Homo sapiens: one gene and its partner. The protein of the gene in region 2 interacts with the protein of the main gene of each other region in a biochemical or structural test. Each region holds a gene or a part of one and is shown on either strand. Other genes may lie near its edges.

Region 1 (17,389 bases), about 87 Mb from region 2:
CTGGGGCTCAGCTGTGTCTCCTCCTCTCCTGTTGGGTCACAGGCTGAAGGAGTCCTTCCTGGTGACAGGCAGCCAGGACTGCACTGTGAAGCTGTGGCCTCTTCCCAAAGCCTTGCTGTCCAAGAACACAGCCCCAGACAACGGCCCTATCCTCCTGCAGGCCCAGACCACTCAGCGCTGCCATGATAAGGTGACTCCATAGCCACTGGGGTGGGGGTGTGGCCAAGCCCTTGCTGGGGGAAGATGGGGGATTGCTGAGCCACCACCTTCTCCCATTGCCAGGACATCAACAGCGTGGCTATTGCCCCCAACGACAAGCTGCTGGCCACAGGCTCACAGGACCGCACGGCCAAGCTCTGGGCCCTGCCACAGTGCCAGCTGCTGGGTGTCTTCTCAGGCCACCGGCGTGGCCTCTGGTGCGTCCAGTTCTCTCCCATGGACCAGGTGCTGGCCACGGCCTCAGCTGATGGCACCATCAAGCTCTGGGCACTCCAGGACTTCAGCTGTCTCAAGGTAAGTGGCGCTCCAGACCCTCCCCACTTCCCGCCCTGGTGACATCTCATGCCCTACCCCCCACCTTGCAGACATTTGAGGGGCACGATGCTTCTGTGCTGAAGGTGGCCTTTGTGAGCCGTGGCACGCAGCTGCTGTCCAGGTGAGTGGGCTGGGGTGGGGCAGCGATGGAGTGGGGGGTGGCGGGGGGACCTGCCTGACGCTGAGCCTCTCCCCACCCCAAACCCAGCGGTTCGGATGGCCTCGTGAAGCTCTGGACCATCAAGAACAACGAGTGTGTGCGGACGCTGGATGCCCACGAGGACAAGGTCTGGGGGCTGCACTGCAGCCGGCTGGACGACCACGCCCTCACTGGGGCCAGTGACTCCCGAGTCATCCTCTGGAAGGTTGTGGGCCCCAAGGGCAGGGAAGAGTCGGGGTGGAGTGGAGGCCCCATCTGACCCTAGTCTAACCCCAGGATGTGACCGAGGCGGAGCAGGCAGAGGAGCAGGCCAGGCAAGAGGAGCAGGTGGTCAGGTAAGGCCAGGGCAGTGGCGCCCCTCCCCGCATCAGCCCTGCTCTGTGCTGTAGGGAAAACGAGGCTGAGTGCCAGGCTCCCTGCCTGCTGACTCCGATGGCTCTGCCTGCAGCCCCAGCCAGCGGCCCTCAGTGGCCTCTCCTCCCCTCCCCACAGGCAGCAAGAGCTGGACAACCTGCTGCATGAGAAGCGGTACCTGCGGGCGCTGGGCCTGGCCATCTCCCTGGATCGGCCCCACACCGTGCTGACTGTCATCCAGGGTCAGTGCCCACCCCGGGGGGCGAGGGGCTGGGTCTTCGGACCACTGGGCTCTGCTTTCCCCAGCTCAGCCTTCCCTTCTCCCACAGCCATCCGGAGGGACCCTGAGGCCTGCGAGAAGCTGGAAGCCACCATGCTCCGACTGCGGCGCGACCAGAAAGGTTGGCGGCCAGTCAGGGTGGGTGGCCCGGTGGGCAAGGGCCAGTCATGGCAGATTGGCTGGGCAAGACGATGAGGGTCCTGTTGCCCACAGAGGCCCTGCTGCGCTTCTGCGTCACGTGGAACACCAACTCGCGGCACTGCCACGAGGCCCAGGCCGTGCTGGGTGTGCTCTTGAGGCGAGAGGCCCCCGAGGAGCTGCTGGCCTACGAAGGCGTGCGGGCAGCGCTTGAGGCCCTGCTGCCCTACACTGGTATGTGGGCACAGCCTGGGGTTGGGGGATCCTGGTGGGCGTGTGGACCACCCCCCTGACCTCCCTCTGTCCAACCCCAGAGCGGCACTTTCAGCGGCTCAGCAGGACCCTCCAGGCCGCCGCTTTCTTGGACTTCCTGTGGCACAACATGAAGCTCCCTGTGCCGGCCGCCGCCCCCACCCCCTGGGAAACCCATAAAGGCGCACTGCCCTAGCCGGTCCGGCCTCTCTCCAGTCCATCCTGAACCCCTGGAAAACCCATAAAGGCCGCTCTCCTGGCCGGCTCTGTCTCTCTGGACTGCAGTCCAGCCCCCCACCCTGGCCAACACCCTACCTAGCCAGCCAGAAGGGCACTGGAGCTGATGGTCTCGGCCCTGCCACGCCCATCCCGCACCCTGGCCTGGCAGAGATCCAGCCCGCGGCTCCGCACGCTTAGACGGTGGGGGTCATGCAGAACAAGCTTTACTCAGAGGAACAGCAAATGGCCCCCTCCCATCCCTGCTGGCCAGGGAGATCCGCCCTCCCCGCTCCTCCCCAGCCCTGGGATGGCGCGGTCCATCCCCTCATCGGGATCCTCGCGCTCACTGCTCCGTCGTGGGGTGCGGCACAGAGTCCACGCACCCTCGAGGGCGGCCCTGGCGCCGTGGGCGCCGCTCCAGGGCCCTGCGTGTGACGGTGCAGCAGCGGCTCTGGATGGCGCCCGGCGAAGGTCGGGTGGGCACGGTGGGGGGAGGGGCGGTGGCCTGGGAGGGTTCAGGGAAGCCCCGGGCCTCACCCGCCGGGTCGTCTCCTCCACGGAACCCCGTCCCGCTCAGGAGAGCGCCCAGCCCTTCCGGCCGCAGCAGCACCGCGGGGAGTAGGCCCGCCCGGTCGCCGTACCTGCGAGGGGCGGGGTGTGGTTAGGGCCCCGCCCGCCTCGGCTAGCCTGCCCTGCCCACGCCCGCTCCCGCGTACCTGCATAGCCACCAGCCGCGGTCTGACGTTTCCAACACGCGCACGCGCGCCCCCGCGGGCACGGACAGCTCATCTGCGCGGCTGCTCTCGTAGGCGCGGGAAGCACAGAACTGGGGACCTGGTGGGAGTGGGTGTTTGGAGTCACCGCGGGGCCACAGAGGACGAGGCCCGCCCGCACCCTTCTCCACATTCTCCTTGCTTGAGTCTGCTGACGGCGGGGCCGCTCTAAGACCGGTTCGGGGCTTCCTCTAGGTGCGGAGACCAAGCACGGGCTCCTGGCCCGCCCTGCCCGCGGTGCTTCTGGCCCAGTCTTGCCACACGGTCAAGCCGCAGTGGTGGCGTGAGGGGTGGGGTTAGGCGCATACCGCTGCTCCCTAGGGACGGGCCTCCCTCCCGGCCTTGGCCCGGGGCCGCCTCCTCCAGGTAGGGCGCTGGAAACCAGGCGGTCTGCCGGTCTTCGTTCTCCACCAGCCACCAGCCTGTGCGCAAGAAGCGGGCAGGGACTCAAATCTCGAGGCTCCCTCGGGTCCAGGAGCAGAGGAGCAAATCCCTGGGTTCTTGGGGGGCCCTACCTGAGGGGTGCCGCAGCAGCACGTCCAGGCTCTCCTGGGCCTGCGCCTGAAAAGGCCTATCCCGCGTGTCCTGGGTACAGAAGGGCTGCAGGCAGCGCAGGCTCTGAGCCTCCAGACTGTGGATGGAGAGGCGGCCCGCAGCGCGAGAAAGAGGCTGCTCCTCTGGGGTGGGCAGGATCACCCGGCTGGGAAGGGCAGCCCGTACGAGTGAGAGGTAGGCGGATGGGGAGGGTGAAACTGGGGGCGCCACCCCGGCAAGACCGCCAGCCTCCCACTCTCTGCCCCTATTCGCTGGCTGTTCCCCCCCACCCTGGACCTCTCCCAGCTCCAAACGCCGCTGCATGCTGGGAGTTTGGGGCGAGTCAGGCACCTGCCGGGTGGCAGCGCGGGCTCCAGGTCCAGGGGTTGCGGTGCGAAGAAGCCAGTGATCGTCGGGCTCCGTGCCACGCGCTCTGCAGTCGCCAGCAGCCTCCGAGAATAGGTTTCCAACAGCTGCAGGCGCGCCAGGCCGCGGCTCGTGCGCCCCACGCGTCCCAACAGTGGTGCATCTTAAGGCACCACAAAAACGTACTGTGATACGCCGCTTTGGGCTTCACTGGTCCCTGGCGCCCCCAGGCAAGCCACCGCCTTCCCCGCTCCCGTACCCAGGCTGGCCTGACCGAGAAGCTTTGGGAGAACGCGGTCAGATCTCCGCAGCAGGCCCGCCTCCACCGGGAAGGTCTCCTTGAGGGTCTTCTGAGGGCGGGAACCAGGGCATTGGTCTTCCAGAGCCCACTGTGCACCCTTGAGAGGGCGGGGTCCCTCACCCGGATGGCAGGGGCTGGGAGCTTCAGCAGGGACGAAGGGCCTCCAGTGGGAGTCACTGATGGGAGGCAGTCCAGTGGGAGGCAGCCGCGTGGGGAAGCCGCCACCGCGGCATCAGGGTGGCCCAGGGTCACTCACCTTGAGCTGCCTGAATTCGTCCCAACTCCTGCGCACGAAGGTGTCGCTGCCGTCTGACCAGCGCACAGAGAAGGCAAACGTCTGGGGGACAAAAAGTTGGGAGTGCCGTGGAGGTGCTGGTCCAGGCACCCCCTTCCTATCCCTTGGGGCCACTAAGGACCCAGCCAGGTCTTACTTGGAGCCTCTTGATCTGCACCAGGGCTGCCCCTTGCACTGAAACTGGGTATCGGGGGCCTGCCATGGCTGTGGCTTCCAGGCTGCAGATTCCTGAAATGGGCGAGGACCCTTCTGCCTCCCCGTGCTTGAGAGGGCTCTGGGGGACCCAGAAAACCCCCTGGGATAGAATCCTGGCAACACCTCAAGCCTGTGGGGTCCTTGTGGAGCCGCCCCAGCTGAGTCCTTTGCAGCTTTCTTGCTGTCCCCCAAGCCCACGATCTGGGGGCAGGAGCACAGGGATTGGGGGACTTCCAGGCAGAGCTGCTGGGAGGAAGAAGAAGAATGAGCTTTCCAGCCCTGGAGGCGTGCAAGACTGAAGAAGGGGCGAAGGGTAGGCGGGACTGCTGCCTGGGGCCCTCCTGCCTGCCTCTGGCCACAGGAGGAGGGAGGAGAAGGCAGGGCTAATCAAAGCGCCACCTGTCCTGCCCACCTCTCTGGATTCCCCTACCCTGTGAGGTAATTGCCCTGCCAGGGTGCGCCCAACAACTTTGAACTGGCCTGGGGATTTCTGTGCAGAACCAAGGACTCAGTGCTTACAGCTTTAAGTGCTTTGTCTGACTTAATCCTAATGCTGGAGGAAAGGTCTCTTAATGTCCCCAACTCATAGAGGAGGAAATGTGTGTTAAATGCGTAATTATTGTGAGCTGTTCTATACATGCTGGGGGAGGGGCAGACCTCACAGGCTCACCCCAGGGGTTCCCCTGCAGTGAGGAGACTTGGGGTAGGAGAAAGAGGGCCCATCTGTGCAGTCACTGGCATTTGGTGGGTGGGGGTGGTGGTCAGGGAAGTGGTCACTAGGGCTGTTTTGAGAACCACCTCTCAATTCACGATTTGCCATGACTTACTGCAAACATGGCCTGGGCAGAGGCTCGCCCAGGTGCCCCACCTCTCTGGCTGCTTCCTTATAGTTCGGGCTTCGGAAGCCACATTCAACCCTGGCACACAGTGGTTTTTCCTCGTGCTGGGGCCACCAGTTCTGTGTTGGGATGCACCTACTCCAGCCCCTTCAGGGAGCAGTCAGCCTCTAAGGCATCCCTCCAGGAAGCTGCCCTGGCTGCAACAAAGGGCCTTTGTGTGTCTGTCCCACCAGCACTCTCTCTCATGCCCTCAAGCTGTCCCTGGTCTTGGCATGGGCAATGAACACCTGCTCACATAGGGCTGATTTGCAGGGTTCCCCCAGCCAGCTGTCACCTTCTCCCTGTCTCAGCTGAGGGCCCAGCTGACCTGGTGGGGTCCAGCGTGTGAACCCAGGGGAGACCTTGCTCCCCTGGAAGACAGGAGAAGCTGGGGAGGATTTATTCACAAGCAGAGGCCTAGAGGGATTCTGAGGCCACCTGCCTACCCCAGCTGACAGCTCCTGCCCCACACCCCATCAGCCCTGCATGGTTTCCACTTTTTCCTCCCCTACCCTCTTTTCTTGCCTGAATAGTACACCCCACCCTCCATCTGTATGCTCCTCACTTGCCCCTACAAAATCCACTCCAAGGACAGACACAGTGCCTCACCTGTAATCCAAGTACTTTGGGAGGCCGAGGCAGGGGGATTGCTTGAGCTCAGGAGTTCGAGACCAGTCTGGGCAACATGTTGAGACCTCCATCTGTGCCCCCCAAAAATACAAAAATTAGCTGGGCGTGGTGGCGTGTGCCTGTAGTCTACTTGGGAGGCTGAGGTGGGAGATCACTTGAGCCTAAGCAGTCGCGGCTGCAGTGAACAAGATCGCGCCACTGCACTCCACCCTGGGTAACGGAACAAGACCCTGTCTCAAAAAAAAAAAAGAAATCCACTCCCCATATGATAGCCAGCGGAATCTGCAGCAAACTGAAATGGGATCAGATTGGGTAACCTTGCCCAAAACTGTCTAGCATCTTCCCTCCTACCGTTATAATAAATTCCCAATCCCCGAAGCTGCCGACCAAGTCTTTGGTGGGCCCCTGTCCGTCCCTGGATCTCCCCTCCCACCTTACAACCCTCCCTAGCGTCCCACTGGCGTTTTTGTTCCTGCAAAATGCCAAGACCCTGCCACCTTGGGCTTGGTCTCGAAGGCGCTCCTCAGCTGATTCCTCATCCTTCAGAAAGGGTCACCTCCTCAAGGAGGCCTTCCAGATTTACTACACCCTTGCATGGACCCACCAGTTTGTACGTGAACATTTATGAGTGTGAGTCCTTGTTTTTTTTTCCTGTCTTGACCACTGGATTATGAACAGAGAAGGTCAGGGAACAGAATTGTGTTCCCTGCTCTGCCCAGCACTTGGAACAGCGCTTGGAACAGAGCGGTCACTGCGCAAATAATAGCGGAATGGATAAATGAACGCAAGGAGGCACAGGAATCCCAGAGGCCGCTCCAACCGGGAGCCCGACCCCTCATCCCAGGCTCTAGGATCCGCGACAGCCGGCGAGGGGCGCCAGGGAGCCCAAGGCACGCGCCAACCCTCTGCGGCCGCGCCGCGCCCTGCGTTGCCAGACGCCCGTTGCCATGGCGCCAGGGAGGGGACAAGAGCCCAGGACCCTAGCGCGCGCCGCAATCTGTGCGGTCACGCCCGGCCCGCGTTGAGAGAGCGCTTGGCAGCCAGCGGGTGGACGCGCCCCTCAGCGGAGGGCACAAAGCCTGGCCGCAGGCACGCAGGACACTCAGAACGGAGCGATGGGGACGTCGCGGGCCGCAACACGGACTTTGCCTGGGTGTCAGCTCGGGTCCACAGCGCGGCCGAGGCGCACCTTGCGCCACACACTGCTCTTTTACTGGAGAAAGCGGGACGGCCGCCACGGACGGCGCAACCCCTGCGTGCGCCGCGGATCGACGCCTGAGGGCGCCAGCAGGGTCCGACCCTCCTGCTCCGTCCCCGCCCCTGTCCTCGGGCCCGGCCAGCGCCGCGGCCTCTGGCTCCGCCTCCACACGGGCCCGCAAGCAGGCACCGCCCCCGACTCTGCCCCCAGCCCCGGCTCGGGCCCGGCCCCCGCGAGCACGGCGCGCGCCTCCGGCTCCTGTGGCCGCGCGCTGGCCTGGAGGCTGACCTGGAGGCTCATCTGGAGGCCGAGCTGACCCGGCAGGCCTTGCGCGGGCAACATGGCGGCGCCCGGCGAGCGGGGCCGCTTCCACGGCGGGAACCTCTTCTTCCTGCCGGGGGGCGCGCGCTCCGAGATGATGGACGACCTGGCGACCGACGCGCGGGGCCGGGGCGCGGGGCGGAGAGACGCGGCCGCCTCGGCCTCGACGCCAGCCCAGGCGCCGACCTCCGATTCTCCTGTCGCCGAGGACGCCTCCCGGAGGCGGCCGTGCCGGGCCTGCGTCGACTTCAAGACGTGGATGCGGACGCAGCAGAAGGTGCAGTTCCCTGCCCGATTTCTCCCAGCCCCGCGCAGCCCCTGTCCCCGCCCCCGCCCAGGTACCCCGGCAGAGCTTCCCAGGGTTGCCTGTCCCTGAACCTTGCCCCCCGGGTAGGCCCGGCCTTACAGCCTTCATCCGCGCGTGGGTTGGATCGTCTGCAGGACTTTGGCCGGAGTCCAGTGGGCCACCGGCTGGGCCGTACAGTGGGGAGCTTTGGGCGCCTTTGTTCGGAGAATGAACTCACTCTCGGTCGGCCTGCTTCCGCAGCGGGACACCAAGTTTAGGGAGGACTGCCCGCCGGATCGCGAGGAACTGGGCCGCCACAGCTGGGCTGTCCTCCACACCCTGGCCGCCTACTACCCCGACCTGCCCACCCCAGAACAGCAGCAAGACATGGCCCAGTTCATACATTTATTTTCTAAGTTTTACCCCTGTGAGGAGTGTGCTGAAGACCTAAGAAAAAGGTAAGATGTGTTTGCACGCAGCAGAGCTTTGCACTGGAGCCTGGGCCTGGGGCTCCTGGCTGACGTTATAGCGGGGAACGTAGAGAAACGGATGCAGAGGTGGCAGAAGTTTGCTGAGGAGCAGGGACCTCCAACAGGTGAGGACTGGGGCTATCTGAGCCTCCTCCTCTCGTCTCAGAAGCCAAGCTGTCGGGATCTGCTGCTGGGTACTGCTCCTGCCACAGCCACAGGGCTTCCAGGAAGGGATTCCCTGCCTTGTCTGGCACTGAAGGCGGTTTCCCGCAAGTTAGGGAAGACTCCACTTTGCCTGACTTCTAGAGTAGGACTTCTGGTTTTAAAATCTTGGAAATCCACTGCTTTTGCTCCCAAGAGCCATCTCTTCCTCACTGAGGGATCCAAGAGCCAGCACTGGCCCTTGCAGGTGTTTCTAGGCCAGATGTATAGGGTAGAGCCGCCATTGTTGCTATAAGGCTGGTCAGTTAGAATGAAGTCTCTTGCTGAACTGACGCACCAGGGCCTGCCCTCAGATGCTAAGAAACAAGTCCAGTTTTCAGTTACAAGGCTGTGCCCAGCCCCACCCAGGCCACACTCTGCCTGAGGCCAGGGACACTGGATGCCGCTTCCTGGGTGTTAGGAGCTTATAAAATTGCCAGGTCTGTGCTGTAATGTGTTGCCTTGAGGCCTCGTTGGAGTTTGCCAAGCTGTCCAGGTGGGTGTTTGCGCAGCCCTGGGAGTTCATCACACCCGGGGAGCTGCAGGGTCAGCCCTGTTCTGGGAGTGCCTGTACCTTGGAGCATAAGGGCACTCCCAGGTGTAGTTCACAGCAGTGCCCCAGCTCTCCTTCCTTGACAGCAGACAGGGAACTGGCAGGGGCAGTGGAGCCGCTGCGTCCTCTCATTCTTTACCTGCTCTCCCTACACAGGCTGTGCAGGAACCACCCAGACACCCGCACCCGGGCATGCTTCACACAGTGGCTGTGCCACCTGCACAATGAAGTGAACCGCAAGCTGGGCAAGCCTGACTTCGACTGCTCAAAAGTGGATGAGCGCTGGCGCGACGGCTGGAAGGATGGCTCCTGTGACTAGAGGGTGGTCAGCCAGAGCTCATGGGACAGCTAGCCAGGCATGGTTGGATAGGGGCAGGGCACTCATTAAAGTGCATCACAGCCAGAGCCTGTTGTGTCTCAGTTGGGTGGTCCCCAGGACACTGCCTGTGGGGACCTGCCCTGCCCCTCTTAGGTTTGGAGCAGAAGTGGAGGTGCCCACAGCAGGTACCCACTGGCCCCCTCCTCAGTGGAGACCCCAAGGAGCTGCAGCTGAACTGCAGGGGAGGGAAGGAGGAGCAGCCTGGGCTGCCCCTTGACATTCAGGATGTAGCTTCCTGCCCACCGCATACCCTGGCGCCTCACTCCTCACACGGGAAGACAGCGGGCCTGGCTGGGCATCCCTGTGCCTGTCCCTGGCGGCCAGGCCATTGCCTTCCCACTATGCAGCCAGGGATGCCCCTGCCCCCCATGGCTCTGTGCTGCTCACTTTAGGGGGCTCAATTCTCCACTCTGCTCAGTCCCTACAGGGAAAGCTCAGGTCGGGTCTTTCTGAGGGTCCACCAGCCATCCTACCCTCTCCCTGCCTGGCACATGCCTGCCAGCGTTGTGTCATGCCTGTCCACAGGGGATTCGTGGGGCTCACTTCATCAGAGTTTGAAGCCCAAATGAAACGCTGAAGTGACTGAGAACCTGGCTTCAGTATATTTTCTGCTGGGGCTTAATAAAGCAGTAGACAGGGCTTGTTCCATCCCTCTGTGCTCAGCTGCATTTCCTGCTGGGGTCCTGGTTCCTCAGGAGAGAGAGACCACAGGGTGAGAGTGAGCCAGGAACAGCAAGGACGTTGATTGGTTGGGGCAGGGGGGCCAGAGTAGCTGATGTAGGAGTACTGGGAGGCCAGACGGCACGAGGTCTCCAAGGCCCCAGCAAAGCCATGGCTTCTACCCCTAGTTCCCCTGACAGGAAGTTCTTGGCGGGTTTGGAGCCAGGGGATGGCATGGAGTGATGTGGCTTTGAAGGGTCCTCTGGCTGCTGAGCTGGGATGAGGCAGGTAAGGGTGGAACAGGAGGGGTGGGGAGGAAGCCGGGGCAGTCACCGAGTGACCACCAAGAGGAAGACCCACCCCACGGCGGGGACAGATGCGGGGTACGTTAAAGGGAGAGCCAGAGAACTCATGGGGTGAGGATGGAGTCCGAGGAGACTGCTGGGAGCCGCCGTGTGGGTCAGAGATGGAGAAGGCTGAGTGCAGCAAGGTGGGGGGTGACTGGGACCCAGCCTTTGGGCCTCCCCAGCCAGAGCAGCCCAGCAACAGTGTGTCCTGTGGTCATAAAACTCCAGGGACCTCTATCCTCCAGGAGTCTCAGCCTTTCCCTGGGCGCAGGCCCACCTTGGCATGGCCGCCTCAGGCCTCCATGGAGGGAGCTGCTATGTCCCCACCAGATTGGCCCCGTGCGGCTGCTGGCTTCTGTAGAGGCTGCCCAGAGGGGCCAGGTGGCACAAATAAGAGAGGGGAGATGGGGGGCAGCCAGGAGAGGAGGTGTCCCTTCCTCGCCCAGACACAGCGCGCTTCTCTCTGGCCTTTCCCGAGGCCTGTGAGTGCCTCAGGAAGCAGCTGGGCCCTCTGGGAAGGCTGTGTTCAGCTTAGGAACATACCGCCTGTATCTGCTGTCCCTCCCCTGCCCCCCTGCCCCCCCCACCGCCTTCCCTTTTTCCCTGTCTTCCTTAAAGTTTCACTCCTGAATAAAACTTCACTTTGCCTTAGAATCTGTTTTTCTTTTTGTTGTTGTTTTGTTTTTCTGAGACAGAGTCTAGCTCTGTCGCCCAGGCTGGAGTGCAGTGGAGCAGTCTCGGCTCACTGCAACCTCCATCTCCCGGGTTCAAGCAATTTCTCCTGCCTCAGCCTCCCGAGCAGCTGGGATCACAGGCGCCCACCACCACCCCCTGCTAATTTTTGTATTTTTAGTAGAGACAGGGTTTCACTGTGTTGGCCAGGCTGGTCTTGAACTCCTGACCTCATGAACCACCCACCTCAGCTTCCCAAGGTGCTGAGATTACAAGCGTGAGCCACTGCGCCAGGCCAGAGTCTGTTTTTGAAGGCATCCAGGCCAGTGGAACTCTAGTGCAAGGAAAAGTTCTGGCTTGAGCTGGTGTTCCAGAGCTGTTGACACGCAGACCAAAGGAGTTAGCACAGAGGGAGAGACCTCCCCAGGATCGCGCCCTGGGCTCCTAAGGCTCACAGGTCACAGAGGAAGGACCCATGAGGGAGGAGGACCTCCAGGAGGGGCATAGTGGCTCACGCCTGTAATCCCAGCACTTTGGGAAACCAAGGTGGGCAGATCACTTGAAGTCAGGAGTTCGAGACCAGCCTGGTCAACATGGCGAAACCCCGTCTCTACTAAAAATACAAAAAAAAAAAAAAAAAAAATTAGCTGGGTGCGGTGGCACACCTGGAATCCCAGCTACTCCAGTGGCTGAGGTAGGAGAATCACTTGAGCCCCTGAGGCAAAGCTTGCAGTGAGCCAAGATTGCGCCACTGCACTCCAGCCTGGGTAACAGAGTGCGACTGTAACTCAAAAAATAAATAAATAACTAAAGAAATAAATGAGTCGACAGCAGCATCAGACTTGCCCTTGGGATTGGCACGGAGAGGTCAGTGGCAACCTTGAGTTTAGGTGGCGGTGGGAGCTGATTCTGCCGGGTCAGAGGGAGAGAGAGGAGGGTGTTGCAGGCAGAGTTTGCTGCTAAAGGAAGCAGTAACGTAAGGCAGCTGGAGGGGAGGTGGGGTCAACAGTGTTTGGCTTTTAGGAGAAAGTGCAGCATGTCTGGGTGCTGATGTTAGTGATGAAGTAGAGAATGAATGACACAGAGGGGAGGTCTGTGGCCAACAGGTGAGAGGGGTTGTGATCGGACGCACAGTGTGATGGACTTGGAACACAGTGAGTAGCGCCTCTGGCAACACCTGCTCTGCCCACCTGTGCCCAGCAAGGCTGAAGAATGAGCTCCAGGGGGGCTGGGCCACGCAGCACCATCTGTGCACCCGGCTCGTGTAGCAGGGACCTGGGTTGCTTATTATCTGAAGTACAGGGTGGTAACAGTCTCCGCCACTACACAGGTCAAGCGCTTGGCGCTGTAAATGTCAGTGCAGACATCTCAGTGCTCTAGACAGAAACCTAGGAGTCATCTGAACTTCCAGCCTGCTAGGAACATGAGGAGAGGGACCTTGTTGCACCCAAGGCTGGGGTCTGTGGAGGGGACTCAGCGGGACACAGGGCAGCCAGGCACCACCCCCACCCGACTCCTAGTCTCTGATGCCGCTCCCTGCCCTCCATTCCAGACTAGGCGCCGCAAGTACGCTGGGGAGACCCAGGAGTAGGGAGGGCATTGGGAGCACCACCACCTGGCCACGGGCAAGGAGCGGAGACACCGAAACCAACACTCCCAGCGGCGCTGGCCACGGTGGCTCTGTCCCCTCCCTCAACAGGTGCTCCTGGGGCCAACGCCTTTCTTCCCACCAGATCCTCCCCGCCAGAGGCTAGAAGCTGTGATAGCAGCTAGAGCACAGTGGGGGGCCATGAGAAAGACCCCAGTTATCCATCTGGTCTTCTTGGGACCAGGGCCAGGGAGCCGGTCCCCTCTCCCGTGGGTTGGGGGAAGATGCTGCAGCCCGTGGACCTCCTACCCCTTTACTCCCTCACCCAAGTGCCCTTCCCAGAGGAGCGGACTCCTCCTGTCTGTCCTCCCGGCTCTAGCAAAGTCTGCGCCCAGCACCCGAGCCCCACCCTGCCCCCGGGGACCTGGCTGGTGGGTTCCTGAGGATGGTCTCCATCTCGGGACCGGGGCAGGCAGGTGAGGGTGGGGGATGGGAGGTGGGCGCGGCGGAGGGAGAGGAGGGACCCGGCCCCGCGCGCATGGACCCAGTGGGGGGCGCGGGCGCGGCCCCGCCCCGTCCCGCGCGTCCCCGCCGCGGCCGGCGCGCGCTCCCGGGAGGCGGCAGCGGCTGCAGCGTTGGTAGCATCAGCATCAGCATCAGCGGCAGCGGCAGCGGCCTCGGGCGGGGCCGGCCGGACGGACAGGCGGACAGAAGGCGCCAGGGGCGCGCGTCCCGCCCGGGCCGGCCATGGAGGGCGCCTCCTTCGGCGCGGGCCGCGCAGGGGCCGCCCTGGACCCCGTGAGCTTTGCGCGGCGGCCCCAGACCCTGCTCCGGGTCGCGTCCTGGGTGAGTGGTCCCTGCCCGGGCCCCCGCTCCCGCCCCTGCCTCGCGACCTTCAGGCCCCTACCAGCCCCCTGCCCCCTACCCCCTGCCCCCTGCTTCTCGCCCCCCGACCTCACTCACTCTCATCCTCGCCGGCCCCTCCCCCGCCGGCCTCAGGTTGGGGTGACGTCACCGGGCAGGGCGCGCCCACCTGCGGGCGGAGGAGGGGCCGGCGGCGCCGGAGAGGGACCTTGAGAGGTCACCGCCGGTCGCCTCTACCCCTACCTCCTCCCCGGGTCTAATTTCAGTCCCTTTCCGCAGCCCTTACTCCGTTTTTCCTGTTCTCGTGACCTGGAAGCAGGGACGGGGTGGGGACGGAATTCTCCGAGGGGCAGGAGGGGGCTACGGGAACCGAGAAGCGCCTCCCCTTCCCCCGCACACACACCCTCGGGTCTCCTTGGCAGGGAGCCTGTCCCCTGGCCCCCAGTTCCAGCTGTGAGTTGAGGGAGGAGAGGCTCTGGGCTGGGAGGGCTTCCTGGCGGCGGTGTGGAAGGCAGGTTTGGGAGCAGCCTAGCCCACTGGGGCGTCCCTGGGAGGGCCCTGCTGCTCCTTCCCTCCGGCAGGGGAGGTGGCAGTTGGGTGCCGAGCTCTGGGTTTTGTCCAGGTGGCAACCTCTGGGCCAGCCGCACCTCGGCGCCTGTCTTGGAGGAGGGCGGTGCCCACGGTGGGGCAGGGGCTTTGGCCTCCCCTGCGGAGTGGCTCTGACCAGACCGGGAGGCAGGACGCTGCGTTTTGGTCCGAGCGCACGTCCCGACTTGTGGCCCACTCTTGGGGACAAGTGCATGTCCCGGCTTCCCCCTTGGCTCCACTCTCGGAGCTGGAGCGGGAAAGGAGCGAAGGGATGAGGTTGAGGCTGGAGGTCGTTTCTTGGAAACACAGGGCTGCCCCGTGCAGCGCTGGTTAAAATGACTGCGGTCCCCCTCATGCCTGTCTCCCGGAACTGGTGGGCAGGAGGCATTGAGGTTTGACGGAACCTCAGAGGTCAACGGTGTCATCTTTTCAGCCCAAACACTTACAGGTGATATTAATAATCAGTCACGTGGGGGCTGTCATCCCTCGGGTACCCACCACGTGCAGGAAGCTGGGTGGACATGTCTGTCCCAGCACTGCATGAGCTGTGCCCGTCACCCTATTTGCATGCTAGAAAACAGGCCAGACAGTTCCCAACCGCGCAGGAAGCAACAGCTCCGCTGCCTCCATACCCTCCCTCCCGCCCCGCTCTGCCTGCTGCACTCTCACCTCCCCTTCGCCGTTCCGGCTCCAGCCTGGGAATCGCGGGCCCAGGTGAAGGCTCCTGTTCCCACACTCTTGAGTGGGCTCTGAGGGGACTCCACGGGCCCACGCGGTGCAGAGTACCTGGCTTGAATCAACCCCGGCTTTTGTCAGCCATGTGATCCCGGACAAGTCACTTCACCTGTTGGGGTCCCAATGTCCCCCGCATTTATAAAGAGAATAAGAACAATGGCGATCCCACGGGGACTTTCTGAGGATTTGGTGAGGGGACGCATGTAAAGTGGCTGTTTAACACAATGTCTGGGCATAGTAGATGCTCACTAAACGGCCCGTGTTGTCAATAATTACTAAATACGCGAGGGTTCGGGAAAGAAAGAGGTGACACCGCCCCCCACCCAGATACGGGCCTGGGAACGCAGGGACAGGCCCAGGGGCGTGGGCGCTCGAGGCGGGCTCGCAGAGGTCGGGTCGCCGCAGGGCCCTGAGCGCCGCGCCGCACGCAGGTGTTCTCCATCGCCGTCTTCGGGCCCATCGTCAACGAGGGCTACGTGAACACCGACAGCGGCCCCGAGCTGCGCTGCGTGTTCAACGGGAACGCGGGCGCCTGCCGCTTCGGCGTCGCGCTGGGCCTCGGAGCCTTCCTCGCCTGCGCCGCCTTCCTGCTGCTCGATGTGCGCTTCCAGCAAATCAGCAGCGTCCGCGACCGCCGGCGCGCGGTGTTGCTGGACCTGGGCTTCTCAGGTGGGCGGGGCCGGGGCGGTGAGCGCGGAGAGCCTTCCGGGTGGGCGGGGAGGGGGCGGGGCCTGGGCGGGGAACACCGCTGGAGTTTCCAGCTGGGCGTGGCCGTGACGAGGGGCGGGGACTGAGGCAGGGAGTGTCAATGGGCCTCCCGGGTGGGCGGGGAGGGGGCGGAGCCTGGACGGGGAGCGCCGCGGGACTTTCTAGGTAGGCGGGGCCCGGGTCTGGGCGGAGCCTGGGCGCGGAACGGGTCTGGCGCTCCCGGGTGGGCGGGGTCAGCGCAGGAGAGGGAGGCGGGACCTCGCGCCACGCGGCGAGCCCAGGCGAGGCGCCCCAAGCCTCGGGCCCACCGACCTTTCCTCCTCCGGGCGAGGCCGCCGTGGGCCACCGCGTGGAGCGTCGCCCTGACGCGCCGCACTGTTCGCAGGACTCTGGTCCTTCCTGTGGTTCGTGGGCTTCTGCTTCCTCACCAATCAGTGGCAGCGCACGGCGCCAGGGCCGGCCACGACGCAGGCGGGGGACGCGGCGCGGGCCGCCATCGCCTTCAGCTTCTTCTCCATCCTCAGCTGGGTGAGTGCGGGGCCCGGGAGGGCGGGGCGAAGGGGCGGGCGCTCGGCTGATCCCGGCTGACCCCGCTGACCCCGCCCCGCGCAGGTGGCGCTCACCGTGAAGGCCCTGCAGCGGTTCCGCCTGGGCACCGACATGTCACTCTTCGCCACCGAACAGCTGAGCACCGGGGCGAGCCAGGCCTACCCCGGCTATCCGGTGGGCAGCGGCGTGGAGGGCACCGAGACCTACCAGAGCCCGCCCTTCACCGAGACCCTGGACACCAGCCCCAAAGGGTACCAGGTGCCCGCCTACTAGCGGCTGGCAGGCACAGACCAGGGCTCCAAGGCCACCCCACCAACGCAGGCCCCAGGGTCTCCGGGACCTCCCTTGGGTCCTTCCAGCTCAGTGCCGCGGACAGAGTAGGTGGCCGCTTTGCGCCATCCGGGGCCAAGAGGGGGTGGACCCGCGTGTCTGGGCTGCCCCTGCCAAGTTCCCCCAGTCCCTCAGCACCTGGCCCCAGGACTGAGGTCCTGAGAAGGGGATAGCACTGCCCAGGACGTGTGTCCCTAGCCTGGAATGGACTGGCCTGGGGAAGGCTTTCCCCTCTTGGGCCACACCTGCTCACTCTGGGGTTGGGGGTCCAGCTGCCCTCTACGATCAGGTGCAGGGGCTGCCCAGGACAAAGCGGGGGCAGGGGAAAGACACCACCCTCGCCCCAAGACTGGGGATCCTGGCCACTGTTCCCATCCCATGTCCCTGTGGGTAGTGACTGTCTCGTTTCTGTCATGGTGGTGCGTCCCGTCCGGAGCCACTCTCCACTTTCTCTCACAGGCTGCTAGAACAGCCCAGCCCTGTCAGTGTTGTGATCATGGTCCAGTCTTCGGGTTTCACCTCCTAGTACTCCACAAGCTGCTCCTCTCTCTGTGGCCCCGGCCCCTGCCCAGGTGTGGGTGGTTCTGGCCAGGAAGGCACAAGGTAGCTGTGGGCCAAGACACCAGCCCTGTCCTAGCCCTTCAGTAAGACCTTGCCAGGAGAGGAGAAGGATGCCTGGGTGCCAGGCAAGACAAGCCCCTCAGCAGGAGAGAGGCCCAGAGGCTCCAGCTGGCCACCGTGCCCCACAAGATGGCCCCTGTGTGGTTCCCTTTACCTTGGCTTCCTGGCCCAGTCCCTGCCTCTCCACCTGCACCCTGCTTCCTGGCCCAGTCCCAGGTTGGAGTCCCTCTGCATAGCTGACTACTCATGCATTGCTCAAAGCTGGCTTTTCACATTAAGTCAACACCAAACGTGGTTGCCACATTTCATCAGACAGACACCTCCCTCTGGAGATGCAGTTGAGTGACAACCTTGTTACATTGTAGCCTAGACCAATTCTGTGTGGATATTTAAGTGAACATGTTTACAAT
Region 2 (7,397 bases):
CTACTCCATGTATCCTTCCACCTGAGGCTGGGGTGGGCGGGGAACGCCCAGGGCAGAGCTGGGGAGCCACTTCACAGTGAGCTGTTTGCCTCCGCTCCCCACCACCGCAGCCAGGCTGGGACACAGGGTGGGCTGTGCACGGGTTGGGCAGCCCAGGCCCCAGCAGCCAGGCCCCTCGCCAGGACCATGTGGCGATCAGCGGCAGACCCGCCAGTCTAAGTCCTGGTGAGTGGTGGGCAGGGGGTGTCACCAGAGGGCCAGGGCCAGCACTGAGGCCTCCCTGTTGGACTGCTGGGATCCCCTCTGCCCGCTCCTGTCAGTCATCCCCCTTGACCGGCCCCTCTACCTCCTCTGCCCCATCTCAGCCCTGCCGCCCAGCCGGACCTTGCGACAAGGAGCACTGGGCAGGGTGGTGGGAGGGAGGGCGTGGGCAGCCCCGAGTGCCAGACCTGTTGGAACCTCCCGTGGCTGCCTCCTGGCTCTGTGACCTCAGGCAGTGGCTGCCCCCGACCTTTTTTGAGACAGGGTCTCGCTCTGTCCCCCAGGCTGCAGTGCAGTGGTGCAGCTGTGACTCATGGCAGCCTCCACCTGGGCTCAGGCCACCCTCTTACCTCAGCCTCTGGAGTAGCTGGGACCACAGGCACACACCACTGCACCTGGCTTTTAAATTTTTTGTAGAGATGAGGGTCTCACTATGTTGCCCAGGCTGGTCTCAAACTCCTGGGCTCCAGTGATCCTCCCGCCTCAGCCTCCCAAAATGCTGGGATTCCAGGCATGAGCCACCGTGCTCGGGCCCCTCTCTGTGTTGTCTTCAGTAAAGGGAGTTCCCTGTGGCCCCTCAGGCTGAGCTGGGCTGTTCCTTAACCACATGGCTTCAGTGTGGCGGGCGTGTTTGTGTGCCTGCTGGAGTACCCCCGGGGGAAGAGGAAGAAGGGCTCCACCATGGAGCGCTGGTGAGTCTCCTCCTGCTCTGGGGTCTCTCCGGGGGCTGCGGGGCCCAGGCAGGGCTCACAGGGTTGGGTGGAGCTTGGTTTCTCACTTGGAGGCTCCGGAACCAACCCTTTGGTGCTTGTGGGTAAACCAAGGCCGGTGCCTGCCCGGTGTGTTTTGTGGGAGGAAAGAGGCCTGGGTGCCCTGGGGTGGTCAGCAGGGCAGCAAAGGAGTCCCGAGTGGGAGAGGCCCAGCCGCGCCGTCTCGCCTTCCTCCCTCCCCCAGGGGACAGAAGTACATGACCGCCGTGGTGAAGCTGTTCGGGCCCTTTACCAGGAATTACTATGTTCGGGCCGTCCTGCATCTCCTGTGAGTCCCCGTCCCGCACCCCCTCTAGGGCTCAGGAGGGCTTGGAGCCGACCCTCCCCACTGTCCCACCGGCCGGGCTGCCTGGACAGGAGCCACCCCCACTTACCTCAGTGTTTTTCCAAACAAAAATTCGGGTCCCTGGCTCTGGCAGGGCCTGTGTCTGCTGTCTAGTGTGCAGGATTTGTAAGGATCCACTCCAAATCCGAGGAGCTCCGATCCGTCGCCAGGGTCTGGGGTCAGCATGCACTGCTGGGGGGTCTTGCCTGGGCTTCCTGGTAGGGTGGAGGGTTCCGTGCTGTGTGTCTGCTGGTTACTGCCGGCTGAGGCCAGGACACCCACACGTGGCTGCTTCCTCCGAGCAAGTGCACCAGAGCCGCTAGTGTCCACATCAAGGCTGAGAACACCCAGGACCGAAACAAGCCCCGGTCCGCGCACGTCCCCTGGGTCTGCAGTCTGCCTTGTCCTGAGACTTTGTGGCCTTGGCCCCCAGACCTGGGGCTCCGTTCCCCTTTCTGAGTGCCCTTCTGTGTCCCTGCCTCTCACCCGCTGTCCCCCAGGCTCTCGGTGCCCGCCGGCTTCCTGCTGGCCACCATCCTTGGGACCGCCTGCCTGGCCATTGCGAGCGGCATCTACCTACTGGTGAGTGGCGCCCTCTGAGGTCGGCCCCGGCCACCCCCATCCCCAGCCCCTGCCCTGACACCCTCGGACACGCATGGCCCTTGAAGCCGGCTCTGTAGGCTGAGCCAAGGCTGGGAGCAAGTGTGAGCCTGGGCGTGTGCTCACAGCACGGCGGGGACGCAGCGGTTGCTGCTGCCATTTTTGGCGTGTCTAGTGTGTCGGGTCATTTCCTTGCATTTCCTCATTAACCCGCACCACAGCCCTGGGAGGGGTACTGGGGTCCCCACTTTACAGACAAAGATGCGGAGGCTCAGGGAGGTGCTGTGACTGGCCTGGGGTCACGCAGCCGGCCGAAGACCGTGCCTGCGCTTGGGTCCCATTATCAGGCTTTTCTCACCTAAACCCTATTCGCGCTGATTCATGGGCGGTGCCAGGACGCAGACATTTTCTTAAACTGCCGACACCTGCGTTTGGTTTATGACTGCTGCACCCTGTTAGAAGGCTGCCCATCCCATGGGATACAGTGATCTCTCTGAGAGGCCAGGGATGGGTGGGAGGACAGGGCGCAGCCTGGCCAGGCCTTGGGTGAAATGCCCTCTGCCTGCCCTGGGCTCCGGAACAGACGGCTGCAGGCCACCTCTCACTGCGGGGGTCTCTGGGTGGACAGAGCCCTCAGACTTTGCTTATTTAAATCCTTTTGTCCATAGAGCCAAGTCCCTCCTGCCCGCAGAGGCAACTGCCCTCCCCTTGCTGTGCGTCTTCTAGTGTGTGTGCGTGGGAAAGGTGCAGCACTTTCTGTGTACGCCTTCCGCGTATGGAAGTGGAGTTCTGTTTCAAGCCTCACTGACCTGCCACCGGCAGAACTCTCCTTTAGAACCCCTTCCTGTTGCCAAGTGCTCATCTGGGCTGTTGCTTTGTTTTCCGGGGGCCACCCGCATCCCCCCCGTCTCCCTGCTGCCACGCACAGCTAGTGGCTCCTGGAGACCTCGGGAGGAATTCCTTGTGCTAAACCCAGAGAGGAATTGCTGGGTCAGGCATCAGCCTCTGCACCGTTCACCCTGCCGGGCTCAGCTGCTCCTCAGCAGACAACCCACCACCAGCCATGTGGCCCCATCTCTCCCACCATGCACTAGGCTTTCTCCCACGCTTGCCAGTTTCACAGCACGAGCTGGCCGTGTGGAGCTTGGACTCGCCCTTCTCTGACTGTGGATTTGAGCTGTTGGAGTTTCTTCTCCCTTGAGTTGCCTGTTCAAATCCTTTGCCCATTTTTCTATTGTGGTTTTTGTATTTTTCTTTTTCTTCTTTTTTTTTTGAGATGGAGTCTCGCGCCATCGCCCAGGCTGGAGTGCAGTGGCGTGATCTCGGCTCACTGCAACCTTCGCCTCCTGGGTTCAAGCAATTCTCCTGCCTCAGCCTCCCGAGTAGCTGGGACTACAGGCACGTGCCACCATGCCTGGCTAATTTTTGGTATTTTTAGTAGAGACGGGGTTTCACCGCGTTAGCCAGGATGGTCTGGATCTCCTTGACCTTGTGATCCGCCCGCCTCGGCCTCCCAAAGTGCTGGGATTACAGGCGTGAGCCACCGCGCCCGGCCTGATTGTCTTTTTCTTAAGTTGCAGGAAGTCCACATATATTTTAGCTATTTAGCCTTTGTAACCTTTAAACACTGGGGATGCCTTCATGCTTTCTGGTGAGGGTCTGTTAACTTGGCGCGTGGAGTCCTTCACTGCACGGAAGAGCAGAGGTTTCCCTGTTCACCTGCTCTATGGTCTGTGCTTTGTGAAAACACCTTTCCCTGGCCCTGGGTCCTGCCTTCACGTTCCTGCCTTTTCTTCTATCAGCCTTCTAGTTTTGCTTTTCAGAATGGAATGTTTCCGTTTTGGAGTCAGGTAGGATCACACATGTCCAGTTTCTCTTTCTGTTCATGACGTATATGATGTGACATATTTTTCCACCAGATATTATGGGATAGAAGATGAAAAGCACACACTCCCAGGTCCACTTGACCTGTTGCAGTGGAACCTCCGGGCATGGGCCCAGGAGTCTGTATTTTTAGTAAAAGCCAGTGGAATCCCGTGGTCTTCAAGCTCTCCCCCCACCACCCCCATGTGCAGAAATGCCTGGGCACCCTTGGGGGGCTGCCGGCCAGCGTGGGTGAATGGCGCCCACCAGACGGAGCAGGGCCTGCTACTCTCCTGGGCCACCCCTCCTGCTGGACCTCGGGCCTGCCTCCCTGCCTTCCCTGCCCTTGGCACCTTGAGAGGAGAATTTGAGTACTAGAATTTGCATCTGGGAGTGTCCACCACGGGATCTTCCAGAAGCCCAGGGGTTCGGGCCCCACTCCTGGCATGAAGAAATAGCTTGGGCTGGTGTCAGGCCGACCCAGGTCCTGGCTGTGTGGCCTCGGGCGCGTCACTTAACCTCTCTGAGTGGCAGTCACACCATCCTGCGTGGGATTCAGACTTGAGCCTGTCCCAGGGCCCCTAGCGGGGTGGGCCTCCGGGGAGGGAGGGAGGGAGGGAGGGCGGGCGCTGGGGCGCGGCTCAACCCTTCAGTGCCCCGCAGGCGGCTGTGCGTGGCGAGCAGTGGACGCCCATCGAGCCCAAGCCCCGGGAGCGGCCGCAGATCGGAGGCACCATCAAGCAGCCGCCCAGCAACCCCCCGCCGCGGCCCCCGGCCGAGGCCCGCAAGAAGCCCAGCGAGGAGGAGGCTGCGGTGGCGGCGGGGGGACCCCCGGGAGGTCCCCAGGTCAACCCCATCCCGGTGACCGACGAGGTCGTGTGACCTCGCCCCGGACCTGCCCTCCCGCCAGGTGCACCCACCTGCAATAAATGCAGCGAAGCCGGGAGCGCGTGAGCCTCTGCCTGGGGCCGGTGGGCGGGGCTGGGGTAGCGATGGTTCCCGAGGCCTGGGCAGGCACCCCGTTTCCTGCCAGCCGGGCCGCATTCCAGTTTCATTAACATCAGCATCGCCTTCCTTCTCAGCAGCACACGAAATCCCGGGTACCGTATATTCCACGAAATATAGTACCTGGATTCCAGGTGTGTGCCTCCCTAGAAAGGTCCTCCCGGGCCTGGAGGAGGCAGCAGAGTCCTCCCTTGACAGCTCCTGCAGGCCCTGCAGGCCCTCCACACCTAACGCCTCCCTAAGGGGCTTGGATTCCAGAGGAGGCCGCTGGCGTTAAGTGAAAAGGGAACAGGGTCGGAGCCACGTGGTGAGCCTCTACCCTGCGCCTCTTTTCCGTAGAAGCTGGGGTGAAGCTGGTGGCGGATGTGGCCTTGTTTGCCCCCACACTGATGCTGGGGGGCCCCCCAGCTGCCCAGGACGCTCAGGCCAAGTTGCAGGGGCTTCTGGCCACCCCTTCCCCTCACTTGTGCGGAGGCTGTGGCTGGCTGCACACACACCTGCCCACAGGTCCTCACCACCACCCCAGCCCGGTGCCCCCAAAGCTTTGCCCGGCGTCAGCCACGTCCCCCACCTTTGGGCTCTCGCCAAGGCACCCACTCCCCTGAGGCCGGAGAAGCCCTTGCCTGCTGCTTGTCCACCTGCTCTCCCAGCAACTCACACTTCAGAGCCAGGGTCCTCTGTTCCTGGGGGCCTTCAGAATCCACCCCCCACCAGCCAACACTCGGCACCATACAGACGTCTCAATCCAGCCTCATCTCAGCCGTCCCCCCAGGTCACCAAGCTTCAGGTCACCCTTGAAACCCCCACACCCCACATCCAATCCTGGCCCAAATCCAGACCCCAGCTACATGGGCCATCCCCACCCAGGCCACCTGCCGCCTCCCGCTCTGCCCTCATCCCCTGAAACCATCCTGATGCTGCCATTGAAACCCAAAGCCTCACCCCAGTGCCTCCGGCTCAGAATCCGCAGGCTCAGAACCCACAGGCTCAGCTACCTCCAGTGACAGCCACAAGCTTCTGATGGCCCCAGGGCAGACATGATCTGCACCCCCAGCGCCCTGCCCTGCCCCTGCGGTCCCCCTCTCACCTGGCATCAGCCACGCAGGCCACTCTCTGACCCTTGGACACACGCAGCATGTGTCTTCTCAGGGCCTTTGCATGGGCTCTTCCTGCTGCCTGGAGCTGTTCCCTGCATGGCTGCCTGGCTCCTTCCTCCTCCCCTTCAGGTCTTCGAGGCCTCCCTGACCCTCTGCTTAGAACTGCAGCCCCTTGGCCGGGCGCGGTGGCTCACGCCTGTAATCCCAGCACTTTGGGAGGCCGAGGCGGGCAGATCATGAGGTCAGGAGATCGAGACCATCCTGGCTAACACGGTGAAACCCCGTCTCTACTAAAAATACAAAAAATTAGCCGGGCGTGGTGGCGGGCGCCTGTAGTCCCAGCTACTCAGGAGGCTGAGGCAGGAGAATGGTGTGAACCCGGGAGGCGGAGCTTGCAGTGAGCCGAGATCGCACCATTGCACTCCAGCCTGGGCCAGAGCGAGACTCCTCAAAAAAAAAAAAAAGAACTGCAGCCCCTCCCCCAGAGCCTCTGTCCTGGACTCACTCACAGACTACACACCACTTGTTTCATTAGTCACCGTGGAGGCAGGAAGGGTTTTCACCATTTTGTTCTCGGCCTGTTCCCAGTGCCAGGTGCTTAGTAGAAACTCATATGGCTGGGTGCGGTGGCTCACGCCTGTAATCCCAGCACTCTGGGAGGCCGAGGTGGGAGGATCACTTGAGCTCAGGAGTTCGAGACCAACCTGGCCAACATGGCGAAACCCCGCCTCCACTAAAAATACAAATATGAGTTGGGTGTGGTGGTGCACGCCTGTACTGGGAAGCTGAGCTGGGAGGATCGCTTGAACTCAGAAGGTGGGGGTGGCAGTGAGCTGAAGTCATACCACACTGCACTCCAGCCTGGGCAACAGAGCGAGACCCTTTTTCAAGAAAGAAAAGAAACTCAATAAATGTGTTGAATGAAAATTCCATCTCCTGGACAAGGGCCACCACCTCCAGGAAGTCTTCCCTGAGGCCTCTTGCTTTGGGAGTCTGAGTGGAGTCCTTGTTCTTCTGTGCAGCACCCCCACCCCCATCTCCAGGCACCTGGACGCAGTAGGTGGGTGAGCCAGGGGGCCAGGCAGGGGAGGGGCTAACAACTGCCCAGCAGCCCCATGGCAATGTCAGCCCTTGGGGCCGGGGGCCTAGAGACTGAGACCCTGAGACTGTCACAGGCCTGGGCCCCCTTTCCACGACTGGGGCTGCTCCCCCCGGGGCCCCTTAACTAAAATCTCCAACAGAGCCTGGGTCCCGAAGCGTGGCTAGTTCACCATCAGGGAGGGCGCTTGGCCTTGGATGTTGATCCGAACCACGAAGGCTGGGGGCCCTGCCTTGAGCCGACAGCCCTGCAGTTCATCCTCAGAGACTTGCCTTGGGGGCCGAGAGGGTGCCCCTAGGCGCTCACATCATTACAAAGCATAGGGCTCAAGGCACTGCTTGAGGAAGGAGGCTGGTTCCTGTTCCCAGGGGTGTCCT

The links.
Region 1: the proteins of CYBA (region 2) and NOXO1 form a complex in vitro, tested with the Homo sapiens proteins (3 studies listed by IntAct).

What each region holds. Positions count from the first base shown.
Region 1 is NC_000016.10:1,976,772-1,994,160, forward strand, and holds NOXO1 (NADPH oxidase organizer 1), read right to left. Parts: upstream 4,699-17,389; 5' UTR 4,409-4,698; coding exon 4,343-4,408; exon of another isoform or gene 4,249-4,342; coding exon 4,168-4,248; exon of another isoform or gene 3,961-4,167; coding exon 3,885-3,960; coding exon of another isoform or gene 3,870-3,884; exon of another isoform or gene 3,774-3,869; coding exon 3,596-3,773; exon of another isoform or gene 3,411-3,595; coding exon 3,226-3,410; exon of another isoform or gene 3,133-3,225; coding exon 3,019-3,132; exon of another isoform or gene 2,772-3,018; coding exon 2,654-2,771; exon of another isoform or gene 2,579-2,653; coding exon 2,281-2,578; 3' UTR 2,146-2,280; downstream 1-2,145. Other genes in the region: TBL3 (transducin beta-like protein 3), read left to right, coding at 43-190, 283-513, 585-655, 743-899, 971-1,029, 1,187-1,290, 1,378-1,449, 1,542-1,700 and 1 more; GFER (FAD-linked sulfhydryl oxidase ALR), read left to right, coding at 7,448-7,705, 7,976-8,172, 9,095-9,257; SYNGR3 (synaptogyrin-3), read left to right, coding at 13,332-13,430, 15,203-15,440, 15,865-16,007, 16,092-16,301. UniProt on the Homo sapiens protein: Constitutively potentiates the superoxide-generating activity of NOX1 and NOX3 and is required for the biogenesis of otoconia/otolith, which are crystalline structures of the inner ear involved in the perception of gravity.
Region 2 is NC_000016.10:88,640,657-88,648,053, reverse strand, and holds the end of CYBA (cytochrome b-245 light chain), read left to right. Parts: coding exon 1-9; intron 10-878; coding exon 879-953; intron 954-1,215; coding exon 1,216-1,299; intron 1,300-1,856; coding exon 1,857-1,938; intron 1,939-2,624; coding exon of another isoform or gene 2,625-2,888; exon of another isoform or gene 2,889-4,482; coding exon 4,483-4,701; 3' UTR 4,702-4,765; downstream 4,766-7,397. UniProt on the Homo sapiens protein: Subunit of NADPH oxidase complexes that is required for the NADPH oxidase activity that generates, in various cell types, superoxide from molecular oxygen utilizing NADPH as an electron donor.